3 linked regions of the Homo sapiens genome follow. The protein of the gene in region 1 interacts with the protein of each later gene in a biochemical or structural test. Each region holds a gene or a part of one and is shown on either strand. Other genes may lie near its edges.

Evidence for each region. The genes of interacting proteins can lie anywhere in the genome.
Region 2: the proteins of GNAQ (region 1) and RIC8B form a complex in vitro, tested with the Homo sapiens proteins (one study listed by BioGRID).
Region 3: the proteins of GNAQ (region 1) and CYTH1 form a complex in vitro, tested with the Homo sapiens proteins (one study listed by BioGRID).

What each region holds. Positions count from the first base shown.
Region 1 is NC_000009.12:77,789,781-77,795,390, reverse strand, and holds part of GNAQ (guanine nucleotide-binding protein G(q) subunit alpha), read left to right. Parts: intron 1-798; coding exon 799-928; intron 929-5,610.
Region 2 is NC_000012.12:106,882,682-106,886,181, forward strand, and holds part of RIC8B (chaperone Ric-8B), read left to right. Parts: exon of another isoform or gene 1-2,763; intron 2,764-3,222; coding exon 3,223-3,334; 3' UTR 3,335-3,500.
Region 3 is NC_000017.11:78,702,274-78,705,773, reverse strand, and holds part of CYTH1 (cytohesin-1), read left to right. Parts: intron 1-3,169; coding exon 3,170-3,236; intron 3,237-3,500. UniProt on the Homo sapiens protein: Promotes guanine-nucleotide exchange on ARF1, ARF5 and ARF6. Promotes the activation of ARF factors through replacement of GDP with GTP.

The DNA of each region.
Region 1 (5,610 bases):
CTCAGTGCCAAGCATTGCTAGATATTTTCAGACATACATTGTCACTCAAATTAATTGATGTCAGTGTTGGTTTCTGAGCAGTAATTCAGCACAGAATTGATGTGTTAAAAACAAATGATTGAAATGGTTCACATGATGGCCTCCGTCTTGTACCTTGTAGTATCTTCATTCACTCACACTTTATTTCAAGTAAGTGACCTGACATGACTGGACCTGTGCCAAATTCTTATCAATATTGGGAAGAAAAAAATGCCCAACATGCCGACCCTGCTGATAAAGGATGAGTGGGGTCGTATCTGCATTTAGTGGAAGCATCATACCACCCATATTGAATTGTATAGCATCTCACATATTTTAAGTATACTTGTAGTCATATCTAGCATCCATAAGAAATACATGAGGATCTTTTTTCCGATTTTATAGGAAAAGAAACTGAAGTTCAGTATTTGCCAGTAGGGCTTAACACAAAACTCATTCAGTTTTGGACTCTTCAGCGCTTCATTAAATAAAATACCATTTTGCTTGGCACAGATAAGGATGTTTTTTACAGTGTTACAGTTTTCGTACACACTGGTAACTTTCTTAAAACCATCATGATGTGTTACCCAGAATGTTTTAACTTTGAATATTAGGTAATAAGAAATTAGTAATTATTCAATAAGTATTAATTGAATTGACTTGGATGATCATCGTCATTCAAGAGAATATTTTCCCTAAGTTTGTAAGTAGTGCTATATTTATGTTGACTTTTTAGTTTTACTTTATATGTTATTAATATGAGTATTGTTAACCTTGCAGAATGGTCGATGTAGGGGGCCAAAGGTCAGAGAGAAGAAAATGGATACACTGCTTTGAAAATGTCACCTCTATCATGTTTCTAGTAGCGCTTAGTGAATATGATCAAGTTCTCGTGGAGTCAGACAATGAGGTAAGTGTTCTTTAGACAGGCAATGGATTATCATTTTATTATCTGATACAAGTAAATGATAGAAAGTAGGGTGTGGGGAATGGAGTGAACTTACTTCTTTGCTTTCTTGAAATTTGATTTTAGGACTTTTAAAATAACCAAAAATAATCCTGTGGTAAGCTCTTCTGTCAGATGTGTGAGCAGGTCTTTGTGTTCAAATCTAATTAGAGCCTATTTGATACTTTTTAACACTATGCAGAGGTTCTGAAAATGAAAATAACATGGAAATCCTAGGCTAATCATCAGATCATTTTATAGTCTTCCTCCTACAGGATAGAACTGGGAGTGTTGGAGTGAGTCATCCTGTTTTGTTTTGTTTTCATTTTGTTTAAATCATTGTTTGTGTGATGGGTGTGTCCCAAAGAGTACTCAAAATCTCTCTTGGCAAATGTGAATGACTTCGCAGCTGGGCTCTAAATCAGTTCATTATGAACCATGGAATATCTTGGTGATGCGGCCTTTCTGCTCTTATAGAATTCTCTAGGCTGTTGCATAATTTTGTCTCTATTAAGCAGTGAGCAGTTGAAGAAGTATCCTTAATATGCCTGTCTGGAGAACAATTTCAGTATTGTTATCTCCTCCCTGTTACAGGGAAACTTAATAGGTGTAAATGTGGATTTTCAGGATGGTAAAGACCTGACGATGAATCGATTATGGAATATATTAAGGGATGTAGAAATCTGTACTTCTGAGCTGTAGTTGTGTGCATGTGTATGTGTGTGTTGGGGGAACGGGGAAGACACCATTGATATCCTGTTAGAGGCAGAGATTGCAGTGTGGTAGGTTAATAATAAATATTAAATATCCCAATAATAGGGTAGCAAAAAAGAAGGAAGTGAGAGATCCCCGTTTGCTGACTAAAATAGGATCTAGCATATTATGCTTTTAATACAGTACATTTTTTAGGTACACAAGAATTCCTGACTGGTTCTTTTAAATATTTTTCTGCCAGTATTAATATCTCCATTAAAATACATATCCAAGCTCCTATAGTATTTCTTTTATGTATAGGATTGATAAAGTTTCCGTGAACCAATGTCTATATAGAACCGAGAGTCACCTGTTCATGCATTTCGGAATCATTCCTGAGTTACAAGTATATTGGCTTTGGAGTTAACCAAATAACTTCTGTTTAAGAATGAGGCTTGTTTATCAATCAGTTGCCCCCAATAACTCTAAAGCAAAGTGCCTAAAAGCATGCTACAATATATGACAGTAAGTTACCAAGATACAAGGCAGTTACTGTCAGAATTTTAGCTATGATATCTTTATCTGTATATCTTTATGTCTGTGCTTGTTTGTTACATAATCCCTGGATGTAGTATTTTAAACATACTGCATATTTTGGGAGCAGATCTATTCTAACACTTCTGATTTTTTTGAATGTTGTGTCAAGACAAAAAAATATTTTGAGGGCTTCCCTACTATATGCTGGGTACCAGAGTATCTAAAAAGACACAAAAATGGGGAAAAAAATCAACTCTGCCCTAGAAGACCTTATAAACAAGATATGCTTTTGGTCAGAATAAGCCATAGGGGGAAAGGTAAGCCTTTGTTATGTAGGTTGTCATTTCTCTTCTTTAATTTGCCATCCAGTAAAATAAAATTTGCATTTATCAATTACACAAGAGATGTAAGAAGCAAATGTGAATTTATTTCTGATGTTTACATTATAGCTAGAGGAGGACAAGTGTTTATCAATACACATTTTCCACAAGATAAATGCATTATATATATATGAAGAAGTATATGTCATGATGTAATACTTATCAATTTACCACTTCAAAATTATCAAAATAGAAAAGAAAGTAGAATCCTTTGGCAACTCATCAGCTAATTCAGTTCAACCGAATTGAATCTGGTTCTTCAGTTATCTGAACATTACAGATCATTTATTCCATTTTTCCTCAGACATAGCTAATAGTGACTAGATTTTTATATAAAAGTATATTATGTTAATTAGAATAAAATGGCATCGTTTTTATTATCATGTGTCATAATTAAAGTTCCCACAGTAACTTGACATTCAATGTACAGGTACTAAGAACGTCTAAAAATATTGTCCCAGTTCCTTTGATTCCTGTGGTGATGTCTTATGCTACTTTTAAATAATTACAAATTAAAATAATAAAGCTATCATTTTTTCATTAGGACTCCCTAATCACTTGTGAATCTTTTGAAAGTCTAGGTAATTCTATAAGATGAAAGTCAACTTGTACGGTGTTCCTTTCTGAGACCTCTAGTCAAGCCTGATGATAGTATGGGATCATGAGAAAAGTGCTGTTCATTAATTCCTTCATCCATATTAGCCACAGCTATCACTGTCTGTAATTAGGAAGTACTGTCAAAAAAATATTTTTTAATGTTGGGATGTAGTCTCATTACCCCTTTTTTTCCCCAGTTGTACTAATGTATGATAATGTCATTGCCTCTCAGCTTCCTTAATCATTAAGAAAATTCAGAACTACAGAATTCTAGTTTCCCCAGATTTTTTGGTTTTGGTGAGACAAAACTGAAATAAACTCCAGAAACATTTTGTTCTTGGTTTAGAAGTCTGATGTTCATAACTTTAATCCAAAGCAGACTTTGTTGTGCCTCCCTCCCTTGGTATATATTTGTGAGAAAAACCTAGGAATGGATTCTGACAGCTTTTCTTTCTATCCCAGGAAACTGTGGAAAATGCATTGCAGACCACAGACAAAAGCAGCTAAGGGAAGCATTTTAGATTATTGCTTTTGCTTTTTAATATTTCTAAAACCTTATAAATCTTCATAATTTTATGTAGGTCTGCTTTTGTCTGCCTAGATTCTCAGCCTTTCTATTGTTTGGGGAATGAATTTCTTTTTTCCTTCAAAGAAGGAAATACATTATCAAATAGTGGCTAGAATACCCAGGGTGGTAGAGCTGTGTTGATTTGCGTATTCCCTTTACTGTCTTATTGATGTGTGTATTCCCTTTGCTGTCTTATTTTCCCTGTGATAACACACCAGCATGGAATCCACTATTCTGCTGTAATCCTTTCATGGGTATGTTATTTCAGTGCTCCTGAAAGCCCAAAGCACACAATAAGACATGCTTATAACATATTTTAGTTTATCAGTGTGTATCCAAACACTGCCTTTTAATCTTTATTTTTCTGATTTTCTGTTTCATGAATATCTGAGCACTACTACAAAGATGTTTTCTCAGACATTGTCTCAATGACTGTCTTCCAGGCTAAGCTCTTTATAGAATCTCAAAGACTGAGACCTTTTTCTCCTCCATGTCCTCTTTGAATGTGAGCTTTGAATTTATTAATCATCTTGAAATGGTCATGAGGAATTATGTTATCATTTTATTAAAACGTCAAGATAGTTCTCCCTACCCTAGGCCCTCCTTGATCAAGGTGGATTCCCTGACCTTGGTTTCCATAAACATGTATTCATCCTTCAAACCTGATTTTTGAAGTTGCTCAATTGATAAAAGGAAAGCATAGACGTTTATAATACCTTAGCACTTTATACCCAAAACTTGCTGAAGCTGCTACTCATCAGAATCTACCAGCTGACCTCACCGTGGCGGGGACAGATCAGGTTTGCTGGTGTGCGTCATAACGATGAGGTTACAGGAATGAAGAGATGAAGGCCTGTGGCCAAGGTCACTGAAGGCCAGGTCCCCTGCCCTTCCAGACCAGCTTTCTTTCCCTTCCCTCATAGTGTCTTCTAGATGTTAGAGACAAACTTAAAGAAAAAGCAAGAGGAGCTATAAGGCAGCAAAGAGGGTGGAAGTAGAATGAAAATCCTGCCCTTTCATGAAGGAGTTGAAATAACTCTCCTCTACCTCTAAGCTCTTCTTACACCAATTGGTAGTAGTAGACCAGCCAGAGATCCTTTACCAGTCATTTAGAGTTCCTGTATTGCTCATTTGATTTTGAACTATCTTTAAACAATTAGTCTAAAATATGCATTTCCTTTGGATCCGTCTCTTCTGGTAGGTTTTAAAATGAAGCCATTTTGAAGTTACTCAGCTGCAATCAAAATTTGAACATTTTCTTTAAAAGTGTGAAACATGTACTTTGTTCTGCTCTAAAAATTGTTGAGTGAGCTTTTGGGAATTTTCTTCAGATAACATTCAGCTTTGCGGGGAAAACCTGACTAAAAATTGAGGAGAAAAAAACTCAAATCGCAAAGGAAAGACCTAAAGAACATTTATAAGTAGTTAAAAGTAAAAGCTTAGGTTAAGATATCTGGTCTCTGATCGTTAATTGAATTGAATCAAGCCCGCCTTTATCGAATCTTAATCAAATTAGGCCTTTGGTACACTTGGCTTGGATTCATGACCTGATTCATAAGGCTATTCCTGAAAGATGCCTAGCATTTTAATATTTAACCTCTTTCCTCTTTCCTCATTACTTTGTTCATTTTCAGTCACTTGTCCCTTTTTTAAACTCCTTCTCTCACCTTTCATTCTTTGGCTTTTTTTTCTTCCCTCATTATTGTACTCCTTCTTCATCTCTTTGTTCTCCTTGCTTCCCTTACGCTAGAAGGAAGTTTTCTGATTACCCAATTATGAGTTTGAACCAGAGACCTGGAGTTAGTGCTGATCCGGGTATAGGGAAGCAGACACACATGAACACTTTTTGTATGCATATAAATTGGAAAGGT
Region 2 (3,500 bases), on another chromosome or scaffold:
ATTGCTGCCTTAATTCATTTGCACAATGCATGATTGTATGGCCAGTGTTCACTGACACCTTTCCTACAGAAGTATCAATGAGCCCAGGCATTACGTAGAGCCATGTGGAGAAGAAAATAATTCATACCTTCAGAGGAGCTTCCATTTTAGTGGGGGTTGATACAAAGCACCCAGAAAGTAAATGCTTGAGAATAGTTCACAAGTAAGAATTAAAATATAGGCCCGTTGTTCCATAATGAAATCCTATAATTTGGCCATAAAACTAATATTTTTAATTATTTGCATAATTGGATTAGGGAGCAAGGGTAAAGCTGATAGACTTATTTGAAAATATTACTTCTGGGTTTAGATGAGAAAGTGCTAGATACTTCACACAAGTTAGTAGCTAGCCCCAGAATCATCTTTTTATCAAAGAGATGCAGTAGTTTTAGTCTCAGGAGTGATGGTATATCCACCCAGCAGTTTATCACTCAGTCCCATCTGCCAATCCTACTTTTACCTATCCCTACCCTTCAGTCCCCACCCCACACCTGAGTTTACCAACCCCTTCAGACCCTCAGTGTTTCATTCCCAGCAGGTTCTCCCTCTTCTCCTTTTGCTTCAGTTGTTAATATGTAGTGTCCAACATCACAAAGTCCTTTAGCACAATCAGAACTAGGAATTTATTTAAAATATAGGTATGTAATTTACGTCAGTGCTAGAGAGAAGTTTTAATGGAAACGTTGTTTCTAGCTCTCCACTGAACATTTCTACATGGTTGTCATGTAGGCACCTCAAGCCCTTCAAGTCCTAAAATATATCAGAATCTCCCCACCAAATCTCCATCTCCTATGTCCTGGCCCCATTGAATAGAGTCACCATCCACTTGGTCATCTGAGCTGAAACAACAGGAACTCTCTACTTACTACTCTCATTCTCCAACCCCTTTTCCTCCCAGTGAGTCATGAGATCTACCTCAGAAATGTTGCCTTTTCTTCCCACAACCTCAGACTTAATCCAGCTGTCTGTCTCCTCCCCCACACACTATTATGATGACCCCCCTAATGACTTGTCTATCTGCCACCAATTCCAATGTGTCTATCATGCTGCTGCCAGAGGTACTTTCTTATAAAACAAACGTAATCAAACACTCTTTATAGGGTAAAATCTAAACTCCTTATTTTGGCATTTAAGACATTTTTGACTATTGCATCCCAAACTACCCTTGCAGCCTTACCTCCTGCCCCTCCTTCATTGAACCTCACCATTCCCCAAACACTGGGCCCTTTCCCGGCTTCATGAGAGCACAGAGATAGAAAAGATGAGCTGACACAATCCAAAAAGGTTTAAAAAGATAGAGAATCACACACGTCAGTGGGACCATTCAGAGCTCTTTACAGTCTCTTTTATCTGAAATGCTCTGTGCCCATCTGCCTAGTGCAGGGCCACTCACTGACACCTCACTTGACAGTGCCCTCCCCAGGCAGCCTGGTCAGTGCTTCATCTCAGGAGCTGCCTCACTTCTTTGTTCATAATTCTCTTACAGCATTTACCTCATTCTGCTCAAAATGACTTTTGCATATATTTGTTTTCCGTGCTCCTCAAAGGCAGCAGCTGTACCCAGTCTTCCTTACCTCCCAGTATATGACATAGTTCCTGTCACATAGTCATTGAACAGATGTTGAAGACATGAACTCAGTGTGCTCCTCCAATGCAGTTAGGGCAATTAATCCAGATGTGGTGGGCTGCAAAGATCACTGGACTAGGATTCAGGAGACCCATGTCCCAGGTCCAGCTCTGCCACTAGATAAGTGACCTTGGATGAGTCATTCAGTCTCCTTTATTAAAGAAGGGGGTTGGACTAAATGATCTCTCAGACCCCTTCCAACTTTAAGTTCTATGATTCTGACCCCATTTCTTGGATTGGGAAACACATTTCCTCCCTCATAGTATTCAGGAGCCTCAATTTAGCCTGTCAGACGTTCACATTTCCCAAGCAAAGCTTTCAAACACTTCGAAGTTGTCTACTGAGCTAGCCAGAGCTCTTCATTAGGCTCCTGTTGGCTTATCCATTGACCACTGAGCTGTTCTCACTCCTCCCCAGGAGATTTCACTGTGTCTGTAACACCATTACACTACTGTGTGGCTGCCCCTTCCCAGGAGGGAGCCCTTCTTTCTGTTGGCCTAAGGGACAACTGTGAGGAGGGAGTCATTTCCCCTCCATCCAAATCCCACCAACATTATAGCTGCTGCCATGTGGGTTTTTGCTTATGGACATGTTTTTGGGGGGTGATGCCCATTTCTGTGATAAATAAGTTTTAAGCAGTTCATGGGGCTCTTCAAGGCCACTCTTAAGTACACTGCTGACCTTTCTAGGGATGGGAGGACTGGAGTTAGCAACTCAACAGGTACATTCACCATAATCTCCATGTAATAAATAAGAGCCTATGAAAAGATTAAATAAATCTTTCCTAATGCTTTTTGACTGGCTTAATCAATAATTAATCATCTTTAGATGAGGCTGTAACTTGTGGAGTAGATATAATTGGATTAGCTGAAAAGCGGCAGTTGCGGAGCTTTGAAGAGATTAAAATGGCTGTCAATCCCATAATTAAACTGCCACAAACAAAAGCAATGGTGTTTTTTAGAAAGGAGGAGGAGGAGGAAAGAAAGAGTGAAAGAGAGAGAGAGAAGGAAAGAAAAGTCGGGGAGAGAGTTGGGGAAGGCCAACTAATTTGAAATGAATCAACATGTACTTACATATCACTAGAGACTGAGGCAAAATCAAAACCGACAGATTTATTCCATTGAATGAAGTGTATGCATATCAAATCAGCCATTTAATTGTATGCTCCAACCACTGGGGCAGGTGAAATTTTGGCAGCTTCAACTTGTCTAAAACAAAACCAATCCACCAAAAAAAAAAAAAAAGGTTAATTATTCAAAACAGAAGAGACCTGCTCCTTGTCCTGAGCCCATTTAGACCTTGACTTTTCATACTTTTAATTGGCTTAGTAGGTTTGGCCTGTGTGAATGAAGTCTTTTATCTCCCTCTTCCCTCTTTTTCTTTCCATGCCCCTTTCATCTTTCCTATTACAAACACACAGAGAAAGCTCAAGGGAAAATACTTTGGTTTTTAAAGACTTTTCTTTTTAAAAGGTTGTGGATTTGGGTGGGGGGGAGGGGTGTGTGTGTGATGCTGGTGAATACTTTTTTTTCTCTCTCTTTTATCTCTTTTTCTAGAGAGGAGTTGCTTAAACCAATGGGACTAAAACCTGATGGGACAATAACGCCTTTGGAGGAAGCACTCAACCAGTACTCTGTCATCGAAGAGACCAGCTCTGACACAGACTAAAAGCATCACCTGCTCAACTCTCAATATTGCTTTATCAGCATCTTTTCTCTGTAGCTCCAGGGGAATCTTTTCTCTAAAACATTTATGCCCTTGCTTTGGCTAGAAACACATTAACTGGTTTACTCATTGAGAATCCAGCATATTTAAGAGGTGACCCTGTGTTTTT
Region 3 (3,500 bases), on another chromosome or scaffold:
TTTAGGTTATTATTATTTTTTAATCTGGAACTTAAAATGGTTTTCCGGTATCGAAAGCGCCAAGACGGAAGTGATTCTGCACATCCCTGAGGATCCATCCATACGGGTACTCAGGCTCACCCTGCATTTGTTTCTCAAGCAGGCATTACATTTGCTCGGACTTTCTTATAGGAGAGAATTCATGTTTCTCATCGACGATCTGATGCATTTTGTAGGAATGATCCTAAATACTATTTAATCAAGCAGAAATAATATACTCATGTAGTACAGGATTTCACTTTCTGAAATGTATACGCGTCAGTTAACTAAGGCGATCCAGTAGCAGTAAGCTGTTTTCCTTTGGACACCTTAACTGGGGTGTCAGACCTGTGTAGGCTGGGGAAAGCCACTTAGAGAAGTAGCTGCCTAAGGCCTAGAGCTATAGGGGCTCCAAGTGGGGCAGATAGAGAAGTGAGCTGGCTAGCTAATGAAATTAGGGAGCCATCTCTGGTGTGTGTCCCAGGCAGTCATGTGGCACAGACTGTGACTGGCGGATATCTGGGAGTGTGCGTTCTGGTGGCTGCAGGAAAGCCTTTGGTGAGGACTGGACTGAGGCCCAGGAAGCTGAGCATTCCCAGGAGTTTCACCCCTTGCTTCTGTGGGCACCTCTGACGCTGCCTCACCACTTACACTGGAAACCATGAAACAGGCCTTCCTTGTGGTATTTGTTTGGAAATACTGATCAAAGTAATCTTCCTGGATTTAGAAAAAAATGATTAGACAATCATTTTAGTTAAATAGGAATTTCTAGATACCTGGTCATAACCCTTCATTCTGGCTGAAATTAAATGGTGTTTCCCCCATGACTTTGTTTCCTAAGGCAGCTGTTGACAGGGGAGCCCAGATTATCTTACACCTGGAAGTTCTGATACTACTCACAGTTTTCAGGTGTTCCTTTCAAAAGGTCAAAACAGCCTGGATGCGATGACTCATGCCTATAATACCAGCATTTTGGGAGGCCAAGGTAGGAGGATTGCTTGAGGCCAGGAGTTTAAGACCAGCCTGGGTTACATAGCAAGACTCTGTCTCTACAAAATATTTTAAAAAGTAGCCAGTTGTGGTAGTATCTGCTTGTAGTCCTAGTTACTCAGGAGGCTGAGGCCGGAGGATCACTTGAGCTCAGGAGTTAAAGGTTGCGGTGAGCCACAGTCACACCACTGTACTCCAGCCTGGGTGACAGAGCAAGACCCTGCCTGTAACAAAAACAAAAACACAAAAAACACCAACCCTCAAAACACTTAGGAATATTTTCTTCCCTCCATGGATTTAGCTAGAGAACACATGTGTTCTTTAAGGCAATAACATTTTATGATTTTATTTCCGAGCAACTTTTTTGCTCTCGGAGATTATAAAATTACTATTGATATTGATGGCAGTGGTTCTTAAATTTGGGTGCATACCAGAATTACTGCAGGAGGTTTTAAAAATTCAAATTCCTAGGTTCTGCCCCTTGTACTTCTGAGTTACTCAGCCGGTCCAGGGCCTTGCTACTCAGACTCCACACATGGGATCATGTTAAACATACAGCAGAAGCACAGGCCCCTTCTCAGACATAGAGTCAGAATCTGTTTTGTTGAGGCCCCAGGTGACGTGTATGTATAAACGAGCGGAGCGTCTTCACGTCTGATATGCTCCCAAGGCTGCTGGTTGGTGGACCAGACTTTGAGAAGCTTGGTCTGTGAATCTGCATTTTTCATTCTGATACAGTCAAGAAAACTGCCTATTATTTAGCAACTTCTTAAAAAGTTAAATACAGATGTACCGTATGACCCAGCAGTGTCCACCCCTGGGTATCTACCCAAGGAAAATGAAAACGTGTCCACACAAAGACATATATGCAAATGCTGATAGCAGCCTTCTGCATAATTGTCCCAAACTGTAAACAGCCTAAGTGTCCATCATCTGGTGAATGGATAAACAGATGTGGTTTATCCATACCATGGAAGATGACCCAGCAGCAAGAAGGCATGTAGTACTGGCCCACGCTCCAGCACCATGACCTTGACAACATTATGCTAATGAAAGAAGCCAGATCTGAAAATCCACATCTTTTATGATTCTGTTTGTATGATATGTCCAGAATAGGCAAATCTGTGGAGACAGACAATAGATTAATAGTTGCCTGGGGATGGAGGTAGAAGTAAGGATTAACTGTAAAAAGGTGTGAGGAATTCTGTAGGGGAGATGAAAATGTTCTAAAACTGGATTATGGTGATGTTGCACAACTTAGTAAGTATACTAAAAATTCAAATATGTACCTACAGTAGGAGTATTATAAGTAAATTATACCCTGATAAAGTTTTTTTTTTTTTTTTTTTTTTTTGGAGACGGAGTCTCACTCTGTCACCCGGGCTAGAGTGCAGTGGTGGATCTCCACTCACTCCAACCTCCAACTCCCAAATTCAAGTGATTCTCCTGCTTCAGCCTCCCGAGTAGCTGGGATTACAGGTGCCCACCACCATGCCTGGCTAATTTTTGTATTTTTAGTAGAGACAGGGTTTCACCATGTTGGCTGGGCTGGTCTTGAACTCCTGACCTTGTGATCCACCCACCTCGGCCTCCCAAAGTGCTGGGATTACAGGCATGAGCCACTGTGCCCGGCCTACCCTGATAAAGTTTTTTTAAAAATCATGTTAAAAAAAGAAAACTGGCTGGGTACAGTGGCTTATGCCTGTAATCCCAGCACTTTGGGAGGCTGACGCAGGCAGATCATTTGAGCCCAAGAGTTTGAGACTAGCCTGGGCAACACAGTGAGCATGGTGGCATGCGCCTGTGGTCCCAGCTACTTGGGAGGCTGAGGTGGGAGGATCACTTGAGCCCAGGAGGCAGAGGTTGCAATGAGCCGAGATAGCACCACTGCACTTCAGCCTTCAGACAGAGAGAGACCCTGTCTCAAAAAAAAATAAAGAAAACCTCTGTTCCAGGGTAGAAGGAGCAAATGAGCTTGGAGCTTGGAGCCAGGTTCAGGCTTCAGGTTTCAGTTGGCCTTTCATAGTTCCACCAGATTATGCCTGTTGCTTTCCTGGATAAATCTTTCAAAAACCTGTGTAAATCAGTGGAAATCATATTAGTCTTTCAAGCCTTTCCGATGGCCTGAAGTACTAAAATGGCTGTGATGGTTGTTTTACAGGAAAAACATGCAGAGGAACAAACAGGTAGCCATGGGCAGGAAAAAATTTAATATGGACCCTAAAAAGGTAAGTGAGAAAGAAGCGGGAAGTGGTCCATATTAGATGGGGTTTTTTTATAGTGCTCAGATAGACCCTAAAAACGTTTTTTTCCAAGCGTTACAGTTCATGTTGCCGTTTTGTAGAGCAAATGTTATGCACTAAGCCCTTGTTCCTAAACTGTGACTCCCCGGCTTTATAGGTCACTTAGCAAGTATTTATTAAATATTCCAGTGCACCCACACCCATTTCTTCCTGTGCCCTTTCCCCTTCTTTTCAACTGTTTCCCAGCAA